Linked DNA regions of Homo sapiens: region 1 is linked to region 2. A link means that fine-mapping ties the variant in region 2 to the expression of a gene that starts in the linked region. Tissue or cell type: whole blood. Region 2 holds a variant in brackets; the other region holds the start of a gene. All regions are shown on one strand. Distances are between the middles of the regions. Region 1 holds the start of MAP2K4 (mitogen-activated protein kinase kinase 4). Region 2 overlaps MAP2K4 (mitogen-activated protein kinase kinase 4).

The links. PIP is the estimated chance that this variant, and not a neighbour inherited with it, causes the effect.
Region 1: it holds the start of MAP2K4, and the variant in region 2 is fine-mapped to the expression of MAP2K4 in whole blood (INTERVAL, PIP above 0.99).

The regions. Positions count from the first base shown.
Region 1 is chr17:12,017,240-12,025,535 of GRCh38, reverse strand. MAP2K4 (mitogen-activated protein kinase kinase 4) reads right to left here and starts at 4,659. Exons shown (of 11, transcript NM_003010.4): 1 at 4,535-4,659. The coding sequence starts at 4,649. It also overlaps a transcript of ZNF18 not described here. RefSeq lists a silencer at 3,943-4,822 and an enhancer at 4,359-4,859.
Region 2 is chr17:12,099,431-12,107,770 of GRCh38, reverse strand. All of the region lies in intron 4 of MAP2K4 (mitogen-activated protein kinase kinase 4), which reads right to left. Among named protein-coding and RNA genes, the nearest start is that of MIR744, 22 kb to the right of the region's middle. The variant C/T (reference allele first, on the strand shown) is at 4,308.

The DNA.
Region 1 (8,296 bases), 82 kb after region 2:
GCTCAATGTTTTTCTGAATCAATTATAGATTCTATTCTAACCATTTTAAGAAAACATCTATTGAAAACTGACATTTCTCAGCTAAGCGATCTTTGAAATCTATTACATTTTAAGTGATTAGTAGCTACAGCAGGCAAATAATCATGTCTAATAACAATCTGTATATACTTATAGATATTCTATAATTTTCAAAGCACTTTCACATGCATTAAGAATGTGATTCTTACAATGGCCCTACAGGTTAGGCATTATCCCTATTTTAACAGATGAGAAATTTCTGAACAGAGAGTTGAGAAAAGTTAGGGAATTTCCCTAAAATCTCAGTGTTTGTAAACAGCAGAGCAGTTACCTTAACCATGGTTTTCTGAGTCTAAGTCCAGTGCTCTTTACACTTCAACATCCTTTTGTTTCTTAAACATTACTACATGCTATGGGAACGCTAGCTGCTACAGCTACTACTGGAAAAGGAATCATCCTGCCTATGCAATTTCATTATAGAAGCTGTTGAATTCTCAACTGGCAAGCTCTATTAATCAGAATATGCTATTCTCTAACATGCCAACCATACTATCTAGTACTATTTGCTATACATATCTAAGATTAATTACCTGGTATAACGGGATCTTCTCTTTACAGGATTCACACTAACCCAGCTAAAGTCACGAGGCTTTAGATTTGCCACAAGGGAAAGCCCTAGCCATGGCTAGGAAGGTTCTTGAATGCTACAAGTCAATTCCGTACTTTAGGTTGGCTAAAATTTCTTGGACTAAAGAATAATACTTTTCCACAGAATGAGGCCCTAATATGCAAGAAATTTTCCTATTAAATCTATCTACATTAACAAATTATTGATGAAACATTAAGAATAAAAACATTTCTCAGAGTAGTTAATTTGAGTATTGTTTCCTCTCTCAAATGCAAACTCATCCTAATGCCAAATATACTTTCATAAAACCACTTACCTAACTTGGCAAACAGATCTACATTTTGTTAGCTTTAGTCATCAAAGAACCAAAGCCTAAGAACTACTCAACGTATAAAGGTTGGGTGTGTTTGTGAATGAACATGAAAAAAAAATGAGTCAGAATGAGTGAAGACACTCAAATCTTTTGAGTAATAACAAAATTAGCAGCTATTCCCTATTATCTGAGGGACAGTGGCAAAAATGGCCAGATTAGAAGCCATAACTGTTAGCATAAACATGCAACCAAAGCTACGTCTGTTGATTACTCTTATAATCAAATTCACTATAAATCCCATTCCAACCATCTACCCATCCCCTATGAAAAAAATGAGTAGAGCAAATTGATAGCTAGACTTCTGTTTCATATCGTTCACATTGTAATTCATTTGAGAGTCCTCAGATCCAGAAAAAAACAGATCCGGAGTTTGAAGTAGAATAAAATCTCATCTAGGATACTCTGAAAGGACTGCTCAATAATGAAAAGTGGGGAAATCAACAGGTTAGAGAGAACAGTGGGACCTAGTAATATGAACTAAAGAAATTGTGTGGTAAATAATGAGAGGTTAGGGACTCATTTACCAATAGTAAAAGGGACCATTAATGAGACCATAACAATATTGTCGCTACTAACAATGATGGCTAATGTGTATTGCATCCTTACTACATGTCAGGTCCCAGGCTTACATGCATTCTCAAAGCCACCGGGGAGGTAAGCGTTATTCCCACTTTCCAAGTGAGAAACTGAGGCTTCGAAAGGCCAAGTTCATTGCCCCTGGTCACAAAACGCATATCTGAATCCTGGCCAAGAGATTCAAACCCAGAACTCCAGAGCTCTGGTTCTTAAGCAGTATATTAAGAAAGCAATATTGGCCAGCCTGGACCACTCTTGGGCCATAAACATGAAGCCATGAAAAAGTATTCAAGGTTATCCAGTGCCCACCACAGTGCTTACCACATAAGAGGATGTCCAATGTCTACTGCATGAAACATTCCTTATGTTCCACAACTGAATCCTGCTGTTTCAGAGAGCATGGTCATTAACAACTCCCAGAAAGGAAGTTTTTTGAGTGGCAAGTATAATTAGATTGGGGGAGAAGGAATGGAAGTACATCAAACATCTTCTAAGGCCCACTCTGTGAAGTCTGATCTAAAGCAAAAGAAGACCCTTGGCAGATGAAGTACAGTATGGGAGGTGTGACTCCCATACAATTGGATGGGAATCTTTCTTTTTGGGTTCTTATAAGATTTCCTCTTCAAGGGCCTCACAATTAAGATACAGAACAAAACAAACCAAAAAGAAGGATCCTAAATTGCTGCTTAAGTTCAAGCTTTATAACAGACTGTTCTAGACAACATCCTGAGAATATCAAGCACTTCATTCTGACTAATGAAAAAAGTTTCAAGAACAAGATATAACACATTCCTGAATCAATCAAGACTAGACACAATATTGATAAAAAAGAAAATTCGGCAATAATTCATAGAGAGGTCTTAGGTCCTTTTTCCTTCTAAAATGGGTTCTGCTTATTAGAAAGTTTAGTTAACTGGGTATCAACATACAAGGGCTGAGGAGAACGGACAGCATCAGAAAAAGTCCTAACCACTGCCTTAGGAGTTCCTAGAACACTCCAAGCTCTTCCCTGCTTTGGAACCTTCATACACACAGTTCCTCTGCCTAGAACCGTCTTCAGGTAAAAGAGGGTTAGCTTTCCAGACAAGCCTTCTCTGACCATCTTATCAAGCGGACTGCCCTCTATTATCTTCTATCACAAAACCCAGCTTGTTACCTTTATTACTTTTCCAACTAGTAATTTTTCATGTTTAGCTAAATAGCCTTCCCTCCCCCATCTTCACAGGGGGATAACCTCCATGAGGACAGTTAGAGATGTTCAATTCTCTATAAACTCAGCATGAGCGTTTTATGCAGATGCTCAATAAATATTTTTTGAACCAAAAAAACACACTGTATCCAGCTATTTCAAACTGTCAGCCTCCCCACCAATAAAACAAACAAACAAATCACCTTGTTTTTATAAGCTTTGTAAGTCACCCATCTGGAACAAGAAATACAATCCTAAATTGTCATTTTGCCATTTCATTTCGCCCCAACCACCACCACCTAAATTGTAAAGCTGTACAGTCAGGAAGTCAATCTTATACTTCATCAGTATAATGTGCTGTGCAACACAGTGGGCATCCAATAACTAATTCAATTTGAATGAATTATCTGAGGGCCTGCACAGAAAGTGTCCTCTAAGCTCTGACATCATCCTGTCTATATATCTATCACTGGTTTTTATGTATATTAAAATTATTTCATGGGGAGGGTGACAGGGATGTAAAGATAAATAAAATCCTGTCTCTTCTTTCTGAATTATGGCATGCTCTATAAACATGAACTATTCAATAAATGTCTGTTGAACCTAACTAAATGCTAGAAGCCCTTTAAGAGGAATGGAATCAAAAAGTAACCATGGTCACACTGACTACCAAGGGTACCCCAACCCTTATTCTGTTAATAATTCAACACAAGCAGTTTGCTAAAGTTGTCAAGAGAGTTCTGAGATTCCCTGTTTTAAAAATAGCATTACTACTCAAAATTCCCCAGTAAATTTAAGGAAATGGTCCCTAACAGGCTCGGGCCTGGCCTGGTATTTTCACAACACCCCCTGTCAAAAGCCATACACAGCTAATAAGCATTCCCAGTGGGGAAAGTCATTAATTAGCAGAGCTGCCTCAAATGTCCAGACACTACAGTATCACTTTGACCCCTGTCTATTTCCTGTATCTCTCCATTTAAACCAAATTAAGTCTTCTTTTTTTTTTTTTTTTTTTTTCTTCCTGCACGCAATGCTAACACAGAAATCCCTGGCCTGGAACAAAATGCCTCTCCCAGGCCAATGCAGCCTACCTACCTTACAGGTGGCACAGGCCTGGGCAACCCGCCCCCCACCCCCATCCCTTCCAGCGCACAGAAACCCTGCAAAAGTTTGAAAACGCAGGTTCCAAGAGGCCCCCGTAGCCCGAGGTCAGCTCGGTGGTCCGGCTCCAGCTGTGCCCGGCGACAGCCAAGATGGCCCTGAGCGGGGCCCACTGCGGCGGCGGGGCCGAGGGGCGCCGGCCGGGGCCGCTGTCTTCGCCGCCTACCTGAGCGGCGTCAGGGACCAGGGGGCAGGCCCGACGCCCCTCCCGCTCCGCCGCAGCCCCGAGCCGGCGCGTTCCCGGAAACGGGGGCCGGGCGGGCGCCAGGTAAGCGGCGGGGGCGATGGGGACGGCCGCGGGGGCGGTCCCGGACCAGGTGGGCCCTGCGGGCCTGCTGAGAGCCCGGTAGGGCCCAGGGGCCAAGCGCAGGCAGAGGCCGCGGCCGGGGCCTATGCGGGCCGGAGCCCGGATCCAAGCCGGGCCGGAGGCGGCCGGGAGCGGGGCGGGAAGCCGGGGAGGGAGAGAGGGAGAAGCCGGCGGCTGCCGTGGCTTCCTCAGCCGGGTCCGGGGGCGTCCGCTGGGGCAGGCCGCGACGACGCGGGTTGCCGCGCTAGGGGGCTGGGATCTCGGCGCGGCCGCGTTCCTTACCCTGCATGCTGCTGACGGCCGGGTGGCCTGGCGCCGGGGACCCTACGGGGCCGGGGGTGCCGCTGCCGCTGCCGCCCCCGGAGCCGCCGCCGCCGCTCGGGCTCGGAGCCGCCATTGTTGGGAGTGAAGAGCCGAGCGGCGCCGCGGCGGCTGCAATGCAGCAAGCTCGGCCTCTCGCACGGCCGAGGGGCGAGGCTTACCCCCGCCTTGGCCCCGCCTCCGACACGCCCCGGACACGCCTCCTGACACGCCCCCGCCAGAGCCCGACGCGCAGCCCGGGCCAGATGCTGAGCTGCAGAACCGCCCGGCTCTGGGTGCGCGACCTGTGAAGCAGACAGCTGTCTTGGACCAGGGCTGCGGGCCCGCGGGGCCTAAAGTGGTTTGCAGAATTAAAGGTGGGCCTGCATTTGTGCGGAAAGAAGGTACGCAGCTTTCATCATTCCCATGGAGGTCTGTGACTCCCAAAAGTCCACTTTGTTGGAATCTCAGAACCCCAAATCAGAATAGTAAAGCTGAAAAGGATCCCAGGGATCCCTTTCTCCTCCAGTCGCTAACACATCACTTCCAGAAGGGAGTTACCTAGAGCTATGGTTACAGTCTGGAACTCCTCTTAAGCCCAATACCCCAACCCTCTACACTTCTCTGAGGGGAAAGGGGAGTCCCAAGGGGAACTAACCAAAGTGCTGTCCATGGACCCATCCCAAAACTACTGAATTAGAGGTTACATTTTAATAATACCACCAGGTAATTTGTATGCCCATTAAATTTGAGAAGCATATATTTAAGCACTCGACACTTCCCAGCCTCCTGAAATATGCTATCTACATCACCATCTTCCCCTAAATGCACACTGGATTCCCTCTCCCAAATCCTTTACATCTTGTATAAGACGAGCCGTAGTCATTATTGTAAGTTACATAAAATGACAACCCCAAAAAACAATATGAGGTTTCTTCCATTGCTTTGCACAGAGACTTTTATTTTAGGAAGACAGTAGCTAAAAGAAGAAAAAGTTCTCTATGAGGCTACGATTTGTAAGCCAACCATAATGTACTCGAAATGGTAAGACATGGGTTTCTGGCCAGGCAGCCTTGCCTAAAATGGAATAGCCAGTTATCCTACTTCCCAAAGAATCTAAGCCATGGAGCTGGACATTTTCTCCCATTTAGAAGCATTGTGTGATCTACAGCTAGACTTCTTTCCCAAAACTTCTTCCACCCAGATGTTATTTGATGCTGAGAGTTCTTCACAGCATGTTGGAAATGTGTCCTGGGTCAAAATAGCCCTGCCTTCTTGTTCCAAACCCAATTTCATCCATCATCTTGATGGCTCAGATCCTAAAAGTGGCTAGCCGTAAACATCAAGTGGAGAGGCATTAAAGGCAAATTGAAGGTGAGAGCAGGTAGGTGTACTTCAGTGGAGAGCCCGCCAGAATTCTCCTCCATGGGCCTCGTTGGCTGCCCAATATCTTCAAGTCCAGGTCTTATAAACATGGCCAGATTCCCATCTGGAAATCAGTAGCCCACCCAGCTCTTGTTGCTCCTAGGGCATCTTAATTATGAGCCATCATAACTGGCCTTTAATAAGAATTTAATATATATTCTTTTAATAGAAATCCTAGAAGCAGCACTACAGATTAGGCAACTACTAGAAAATTAATTTAAACACACACACACACACACACACACACACACACACACACACACATCCAATATTATAAATAACATATATTAAAGAAGGCTGGGGATGTTGGCTCACACCTGTAATCCCAGCACTTTGGGAGGCCAAGGCGGGTGGATTACGTGAGGTCAGGAGTTAGTGACCAGCCTGGCCAACGTGGTGAAACCCTGTCTCTACTAAAAATACAGAAAAAAACAAAAATTAGCCGGTGTGGTGGCAGGTACCTATAATCCCAGCTACTAGGGAGGCTGAGGCAGGAGAATCGCTTGAACCTGGGAGGCAGAGGTTGCAGTGAGCCGAGATTGTGCCACTGCACTCCAGCCTGGGTGACAGAGCAAGACTCCATCTATTAAAAAAAATATGTATATATATAGTTATATTTATATATATATAGGAAAACCTTCAACCTAGCAAATTCATTAAGGGAAATTGGGAAACTGAATTAAAAGAGAAATACAATAAAAATATAACTAATCTTATTTTTAAGAATACCTAATTCTGAGTTTGTGATAAAACTGACATATACTTGCATTGCTGTTGGTATTGTAAACTAGTAAGAGCCAATAATTAGATGTGCATATGGCAAAAACAAGAAAGCACTTTGATTTGTTCCAACTGAGGAAGCTATGTATGAGCTTTTTAACTTTTTCTTATGCTCACATTTCTCTTACATATTTGTGTTTTATGATTTCTTATGGACTAAATTGTATTCTGCTCCCTCACCAAATTTACATGTTGGAGTCCTAACCCCCAGCATCTCAGAATGGGACTATATTTGGAAATAGGGTCTTTAAAGTAAAATGAGGTCATACGAGTGGGCCCTAATCCAATAGGACTGGTGTCTTTATAAAGAGATTAGGATGCAGACACACAGAGCTAGGAGAAGATGATCATCTACAAGCCACAGAGTGTGTCCTCAAAAGACACCAACTCTGCCTACACCTTGGACTTCCAGCCTCCATAACTGTGAGAAAATACATTTATGTTGTTTATTGGTTCTTTTGCTATGACATCCCTTAGCAAACTAATACACAGTTCAGAAAAATGAATTGCTTAAAAAAAGTTAACCTTTTTAGTAATAATGGTGGTAGCTGGCATAATCACTGGGGAGACGGGAAGGCAATTAAGCAATACATATGAATAACCAGCAAATTTACATTTATAAGATATCCTTGAGGAAATCCCCAAATGGGCCTGAAACTCCTGGCTCTGCCATGTAGTGATTTTATCTTCCCACTAGAGTAGATGAAAATAACAAATTAAGATGATTTCTAAGAGGAATGTATGGCAATATCAAAGTCCCCCATCCTGAAAGAGGCTGCAGAGAAAGAGTAACGTCTGTGTATTCCTTGCTTAGAGAACCTTTGTTGAGAAATCTAGCTTGCTTGTTTTTTATGATACATATGTCAATGGTTAGACTAAAAATACATTTTTTTTTTTTTTTGAGATGGTGTTTCGCTCTTGTTGCCCAGGCTGGAGTGCAATGGCGCGATCTCGGCTCACTGCAACCTCCGCTTCCTGGGCACAAGTGATTCTCCTGCCTCAGCCTCCCGAGTAGCTGGGATTACAGGCATGTGCCACCACACCTGGTTAATTTTTTACTTTTAGTAGAGACGGGGTTTCACCATATTGTTCAGGCTGGTCTCGAACTCCCGACCTTAGGTGATCTGCCTGCCTCAGCCTCCCAAAATGCTGGGATTACAAGGGTGAGCCACTGCACCCAGCCTCAAGAATACATTTTTCATTTCACATTCCAAATAAAGAAAAAGTAATTTACAACTGGATTTCACCTTAGGACCCCAATTTCAGCCTCTGGGAAAGAAACAAGGTCAGACACCTCTATTTGGATGGAACAGTCACCAGATATTCCATATAGCCTTAGCAATTGTCTTTGAGCAAAACGCCCACCCTCAAATTGCCAAGGGCTCAGGACCAGGCCACCCAGTGACGGATGTTGCCTCTTCAGGCAGAGAGCTGCAAGCTGTGCAGGTTTCTGGATGTCATTCGAGCACTGAATTTAATTGGAAATACAGGGCCTGTGAGAAACTTTGACCAGTTCATGCCATTAAAGAACCAAAGTTT
Region 2 (8,340 bases):
TGTTATTCTTATACATCTTAAATATCACCTTGCCTTTACTTAAAATGGAAATACAATAGAAAGGAGCAATCTTATTCTTGCTTATTTCAAATGTCAAACTAGTAATAATTTTTGTTTTCTTGTTAAAGCCTTCAACAGAATATTCTACTCAGGTTTAAACATAAACAATGTAGTTAAAGCCAATTTTCCCCACTCTTTAATTGTATGGACAGGGACAGGCTTACACAGAAAACTTCTGTGCTTTCATTAAAATTTCAAATTTTGCCAAAATAGAAAAAAAAATAGGAAATGTGTAGAAAACCATTCTTACTAACAATGAAAATAGATGACAGTAATCTTAAGAGACTACATAAACTTCTTAAATTAGCCAAAAAAAAAAAAAAAAAAAGGAAAAAGACAAAAATACATAAAGTAAATCCCATGCCTCAAGACCCCGTACAAATGCCACCTTCTCAGTGAGGCCTACTTTAACTGATGCAAAGCGCAAGTCATCCCATCAGGCACTCCCTTATCCTGCTCTGTTCTGTAAAGCCTTCATCATCCTCTAATATAAAGTGTAATTTACTTATTTATTATGTTTGTCTCATATATTCCCTACTAGAATGTAACCTCTGCCAGAACAAAGACTCAATAAATACTTGTTAAATGACTGGATGCTGGCTATAATTAAACTGAATCATTCAAACATTTCTTGCATTATAGATTGTTTTAAACCAATTTGAAAGCAATTTGACAATAAAACAGAAATAAATGTGTTGATACCATTTTATAGAATCATCCTATGACTGGGAATGTAACTTAAATGTTCCATAAATTACAAAAAGAAAAAACAAAACAAAACTAGAAACCGAGGAACTATCTCACAAAAGGGAATACAACAACATTAAAGAGATTATCTAAAATCAATTTTTTTGAAAATGAATACAGTTCATGAGAGAGATGCATGAGTCATGAAAAAATAAAAAATAAAAGTAGATACCATGATTATAACTGTAAAAGTACAGGATACACAGATGAACAAGAACTACAAAGTACCTTACAAAAATGAAAATACTATCAAAATGATTTTTAAAAAATTATACAGTTCTGTATGTTGTTACTTATTTATAAATACAGCTGTATCATCAAAGATTTTCTACCCATTAATCTCCTATCCTTCGATTATATAATAATTATATAATCAATCCTATCCTTGGATTATATAGGAGATTAATGCCTGTTAAAAGTAAAATTACTTGCCCAGAACAATACACTACCCATGAATAGAATCCACTGTCCCTAATGTGTTTCTTCTATCAACGTTTGCCATGCACTCTTACAAAAGGACCACTTTCTAGAACATTCACAGATACATGGCTATACATAATGTTTTTGTAAAGCATATTTGACGTAGTAAATTTTACTTATTATTTCTGCATTTAAATCTTTCTTCTCTCTGTAAATCTCTTTTTCTTTAGAGTGATCTATGAGAATGGCTATCATGAAAGATCGAGTAACACCCTCCACCCAAAACAGACACAGCTTTATTTTAGAGACACTATCTAAATAGGTTTACTAAAAAATCTTATTAGAGACATACAGCACATTTACTTCATCCACTTATAAAAACAGTAGAAAGAAACAACCTCAATAATATAGCAAAGCGGAAAAAAAAATGACATTAGGAGTCTGAAAAGCCTGACATTATCCAAGCTCTCCTACTTTCTACTTATATAAGCTTGGGCCTCCTCGCATCCTCAGCTATGAAATGAGACTGCCCCACCATCCTCAGTGGACTGTGATAAAGGGCAAATGAGTTAACATATGCAAAGCACAAACTAAAGTGCCTGGCAGGTGCTAAAAACTATAGTTACCAAATGGAAGGGAGAAGGAAGGGAAATGTGGGCAAATAAAAGAGAAAGATGGACATGGGAGTGGGAGAATAAAGGTAACAAGTAAACCGAGAACTGAAGATGAGAAGGGGGGACAGAAAAGAGCAATGAGATAGAGAGGTCTTTGTGATTTTTAAGGAACATAACCTAATGTAACCTTCTTATCTCTCTGACAGTTCCTTTTGGTCATACAAACAACACAATGGCAATGAGCTGCATTTAAAAAATGAAATGCTCTGAGCTGCCTGAAAAAGGTAGTGACAGCAGCATGACTGTCATGCTCAAGCAGAAAACAGGATGACCACAGGTCTGAAATGCAGAAGAAGTGAATAAATGTGGGTTTATTGGGGGAAAAAAAGCTGGAGAATGATGAACAACTCAACTACTAAGGTAACATAAGGAAGGGTTCCTAAAGATCCGTATATAACCAATAACATATACCAATAACTAATTCGAAAATAAAAAGATATCATTCTCAATAAAAATATAAACTAAGTCACCAGGAAATGTATCTAATAAAATAGGCAGAACCTTTATGAAAACAAATATAAAATGTTACTAAAGGACATAACAATAACCTGAACAAATGGAGTAGCAGACCATGATTACAAATGTGAAGATTCAAGATGAGAAGCACGTCAAATTCTCCCAAATTAATCTAAGAATTCAGTTAAATTCTAATCAAAATTTTCAAGGACCTGAACAAGCTGACCCTAAAGCTTATATTAAAGTAGAGCCAAGAATAACTAAGATAATTTTAAAGAAGAGATACTGACCTACTACACAAAGACTTTTTATGAAGCAATCACAAATAAAAGATAAATACACCAAAGAAACAGATGCAAAAGTTCATGCACAGACAGAAATCTGATATATGACAGAAGTTAACAAAGCAGATCATAGCAAAAGAATGCATTATTCAATGAATGCTGCTGGGACAACTGGCCTTCCATATAGAAAAACATTAAATTCTGACATTAAATCATTCACAAATATATATACAAAAACTCCCAAATGGATTTTGCAAAAAGCAAAAGTTTAAAACTTTTTTTCTAAGAGTTCTCCATGACTTTTATATAGGAAAAAAATTTTTCCCAAGAACACACATAAAAACAACAAATCACAAAGGATAAGACCTGTTAAATTTAACCCCATAATAATGAACACTTGTGTATAAACAAGGACAACATACCAAAAGTTTAAAAATAAGAGACAAAAACATCTATTTGGATGTAAAGAAACAAAAGATCAGTATCCTGAATAATAAAGAGTTATGCTAAACTAATTAGGGAAAGACCAAACTCAGTAGAATTATATCAAAGGCAATTTTTTTTTAAAAAAAGCCTAAATACATGTAAAAAATTCTGTATCTCACCAATCAAGGAAATGCAATTTTAAAAGTGAGATACCATTTCAAACTGCCAAAAATTAAACGTTTATTATCAAATGTTAGTACACACCAGGTAAAAGGAGATCTGTGACAGTAAATGCTGATGGCATACTAAATAACCATTCCCCCTTTCCTCTGTACAATGTATGTGGCTAAAATCTACATTTCCCAGTCTTTAAAGTATAGAAAGGCAGCCAAAGAGGTATCAACACAAAACCACTGGTTTGTGACTCCAGGAAAATCCTTTTAGTTCTTCCCTTTTCTTTTCCTTCGTGTGGACATGATAGCTGAACTCTAGGAGCCAATGTGGATCATGAGGTAACCTTAACAACTGAAACTATAAAGTAAGCAAGCTACTAACAGTCAGGAATGGCTGATACCAAATACAATTATTGATATAGAAATTTTGGTGGAAATTTAAGTCGGTACTCCAGTTGGAGACATTTGTATCATTAAATTTAGTAACTGTATTTCCAGGGACATATGCTAAATAATCTGTAACCTAAGTTGTCAAAGAGACATGCAAAACAATTCTTCATTTTTGTGCTGTTTATAATTATAAAAAAATGAGAAGCAATCTACATTATGATTATTTCTAAAAAAATAAAATAAAAAGGTGTATTTAATCATTAGAATACTACAGTTAAAATAAATTAACTAAATCTGTATATTACGAATCTATATTTACATAAATCTTGAAAACTATGTTGAATAAAACTATGTTGAATAAAATGTACAATAAAGAACGCATATAGGATTCCATTTACTTAAATGTGAAAATACATAAAGCGATATTATGTAAAATGTAGGGGAAAATGCACATATGGATGACCTAAACAAACAAGTTAAAGGAAACACTCAGGGTAGTGATGAGATCTGGAAAGGGAAATGTGATGAGGGCTTTAATTCTATTTATAATATTTGAAGACATATAAAGAGTAAATATGCCAATATAGGATTTGGGTAGCTGTTTCTCCTCTGTAATTTAGTCTATGTTTAAAAAATTTCACAGTTTAAAAGGAACATGGACCACCTTAAGAAACAAA[C/T]AAAAAAAGCAAATTAAGCAAAAATAAGTAAAAGGAAGAAACCACAATCAGAACGAACACCGCTCCCCGTCAAAAAAAATAATAATAGAAAAGCAATACAGAAAATCATGTAACGGAGGCCAGACGCCATGGCTCACACCTGTAATTCCAATGCTTTAGGGGGCCAAGGTGGGAGGATGGCTTGAGGCCAGGAGTTTGAGACTAGCCTGGTCAACAAAGTGAGACCCCACCTCCAAAAAAAAAAAAAAAAATTCAATTAGCAGGGTGGTGGTAGTGCATGCCTGTAGTCCCAGCTACTCAGGAGACTGATGTGGGAAGATCCCTTGAGCCCAGGAGTTCAAGGTTGGGTTGAGCTAGGATGATGCCACTGCACTCCAGCCTGGGCCACAGAGCAAGACCCTGACTTTTTTTTTTTTTTTTTTTTAAAGATAAGAAAAGAAAAGAAAATCATTTAACTGAGAGCTAGCTGGTTCATCGAGATCATCAATAACATTGATAAACCTCTAGCTGGACTAATTGGGAAGAAAAAAAGAAGACATAAATTACCAGTATCAGAAACAAGTGGGAGGGAGGGGGAGACAGGGAAGACAGAAGTAACACACTACAGACTCTACCAATATTAAAATAATAAAAAAGAAATATTATGAATAATTTTATTCCAATAAATTTGATAATTTAGATGAAAGGGATAAATTTCTTCAAAGAAACAAATACCAAAGATCACTCGACAAGAAATACGTAACTTGAATAGAACTATATCTTTGAAAGAAGCTGGATATTCAGTCAAAAATATTCTCACAAAGAAATTGCCAAGTTCAAGTGGCTTCATTGGTAAATTCCATCAAATACTTACAGAAAAAATAATACCAATTCTATATAAATTCTTCCAGAAAATTCAGGAAGAAGAAATACTTCCCAACTCATCCTATGAGGCTAGCATTACAATGATGCAAGTCAGACAAAAATAAGAAAAGAAAACTATACATCAATGTCTCTCATAGATACAAAAATTTTAAATGAATTTTAGCAAATTAGCTAAATTTTAGTAATTTAACAAATTGAATCCAATGATAGATAAAAAAGATAAAACATCCTAACCAACTGGATTTCTCCCAGAAATAAAAGCTATGTTTAATATCTGAGATCAATTCATATAACTCACCATTATTAAAACAACAAACAAACCATACATCTCAAAAACATCTCAAGGATCTGGAAAAAGAATTTGACAAAAATCTAACATCCATTCCTGACAAAATCTCTCAGCAAACTAGGAGTAAAAAGAAACTTCCTTAACCTGATTAAAAATATATATATATGAAAAGTCCACAGCTAATATCATATTTAATGAAGGAAACATGAATGCTTTCCCTCTAGGATCAGGAAAAAAAACAAGGATGTCTACTCTCACTGTATCTACTCAACAGCATACTGAAGGTTCCAGCCAGTGCAATAAGGCAAGACAAAAATAAATAAAGGAACTAATTGGGAAAGAAAGGAGTAACTCTCTTTATTCACAGACAAAATGATGATCTATGTAGTAAATCTGAAGGCAGGTAAAAAAAGCTACTGGAATTTGAGTTTAGCAAGGTTGCTGCACACAAGATCAATATAAAAAAATCAAATGATATTTGTGCATTTAGTCACATGAGAAAATTAAATTTAAAAATACGTATTAGCATTAAAAATATTATACACTTAAGGGCAACTCTAGCAAAAGCATGAAAGACTTATACAGCGAAAACTATAAAATATTGCTGAGAAAAATTAAAGAAGATGTAAAATAATAAAGTGAGATGCCACAAAAAAGGGTCAACAGACTTAATACTGTTAAGATATCAATGCTCCCCCAGTAGACCTACAAATTAGAAAAATCCCAATAAAAATTTCAGCAGGTTGTTTTTTTGTTGTTGGTTTTTTTCGGGTTTTTTGGTAGAAATCGACAAGTGGATTCTAAAATCCACATGAAAATAGAAAGGATATGAAAGAGCCGAAACAACTTTTAAAAGAACAAAGTTTAAGGACCAACACTCTCAAATCTGAAGACTTTCTATAAAGCTGGAGTAGTCCAAGACCATGTGAGATCAGTGCAAAGACAGAAAAACAACAGATCAATGGAACAGAGCAGATACTCCAGAAATAGACACACATCTGTATGGACAACTGATATCTGATAAAGGTGCAAAGGATATCCACATGCAAAAAAAAATCATCAATATATAACTCTCGATATATATAAAAACTAACTCCAAATGGATAAGTATAAATGTGATACCTAAAACTATAAAACTGCTAGGAGAATACATAAGAGATAATCTTAAGTGAGCTTGAGTTAGACAAGAGCTCTTATACACAACATCAAAAGCACAATACACAAATTTAAAAATTGGCCTATATCAACATTAAAAACTTTTGCTCTCCAAAAACACTGTGAAGAATAGATATATATAAAGATAAGCGCAGACAGGAGACAGTATCTGCAAATCATAGGTCTGATAATAAACTTGTATTCAAAACACATTTTTAAAAACCTCCCAAAACCGAATAACAAAAAAACCCAATTTAAATAAAAATGTACAACAGATTTTAACAGGAACTTCATCAAAGATATACGGTTGGTAAATAAGCACATGAAAAGACATTCAACACTGTTAGTCATTAGAAACATGCAAATTAAAAATACAGAGATTCCACCACACATTTACTAGAACGGCTAAAGATTAACACAACACATCACACTAAGTGCTGGAATAGACATGGAAGAAGCTGAACTCTCAAAAACTACTGGTGAAAGTATAAAATGGTACAACTACCTTAGAAAAAAGTTTGTCCATTTTTTAAAAAGTTAAACATACACCTACCATATGATCCAGCCATTCCACCCCCATGTAATTACCCCAGGAAAATAAAAGCTTATGTACAAACAATTGTACATAAATGCTCAAAGCAACTTTATTAGTAACAGACAAAAACTGAAAACAATCCAAATGGCCATCAACAGGTAAATGAGTAACAAACTGATAGATCTGCATAATGGAACATTACAGATAGTACTTGGCAATACAAAGAAATAAATGACTGATAAATGCAAGATAATTATACTGAATGAAAGACGACAAACTGAAAAAGAGAAGTACATACTGTAAGATTCCGTTTACATAAAATCTAGAAAAATACAAATTAATCTATAATGGCATAAAGCAGGTCAGTGGTTATCTGAGAATGGGGACAGCAGAGAGGTGGCAGGTATTACCTACGTGGTGTAAGGAAACTCGTAAGTGATGGGCATATTCATTACCTTGATTTTGGTGATAATTCTACAGGTGTATACATTTGTTCAAACATATCAAACTGTACACTTTACATGTGGGAAGTTTATCAGATGTCAATTTTACCTCCATAAGCTGCATTTAAAACTTGCAAGGAGAAAGAAGAGGGAAAGGAGAAGAGGGGTGGAAGTAAGGATAAAAAAGGGGGAGGTAACTTGCTTCAGCCAGCATCACTGCCTTCTATAATCTGATGAACTTCTACATTCACAAGTTACTCAGAACAGTGCTTTCTGCACTAGAATTTATTGCCCAACCTCAAAAGATGTTTAAAATAAGAGTTTACCTGCTATGAAATTCTCAAATTTTATGTATTAGAAAAATTTTTAAGTGATACTAGGTTTCAGCACTGTTAAGATAAATGGTAGGTCTTTTTTGTAAAATATAGGCTAAAAGTTACTTCCATTATTCAATTATTATCAAGCTCTTTTTTCCACCTACCTACAAAGCCTGAAAATGACTTTTAGGAACCTGTGCAACTGAGTGACCTAATAACTTATCTAAACCAAATCCAAGCTGTACTTTGGACTTTTCTTTTTGAGGTTGGTTCCATCCTAGAAAGAAGTATGCATGGTTGAAGATAGTGGCAACATAGAAGTTACCAACTTCAGTATTAAGGATTATTCACTGCTTTGAATAAGTGACGGAACTTTCAGAAGCTCAATATTACCCAACAGCAAGATTAATCTCTAATTAGTGGAACTACC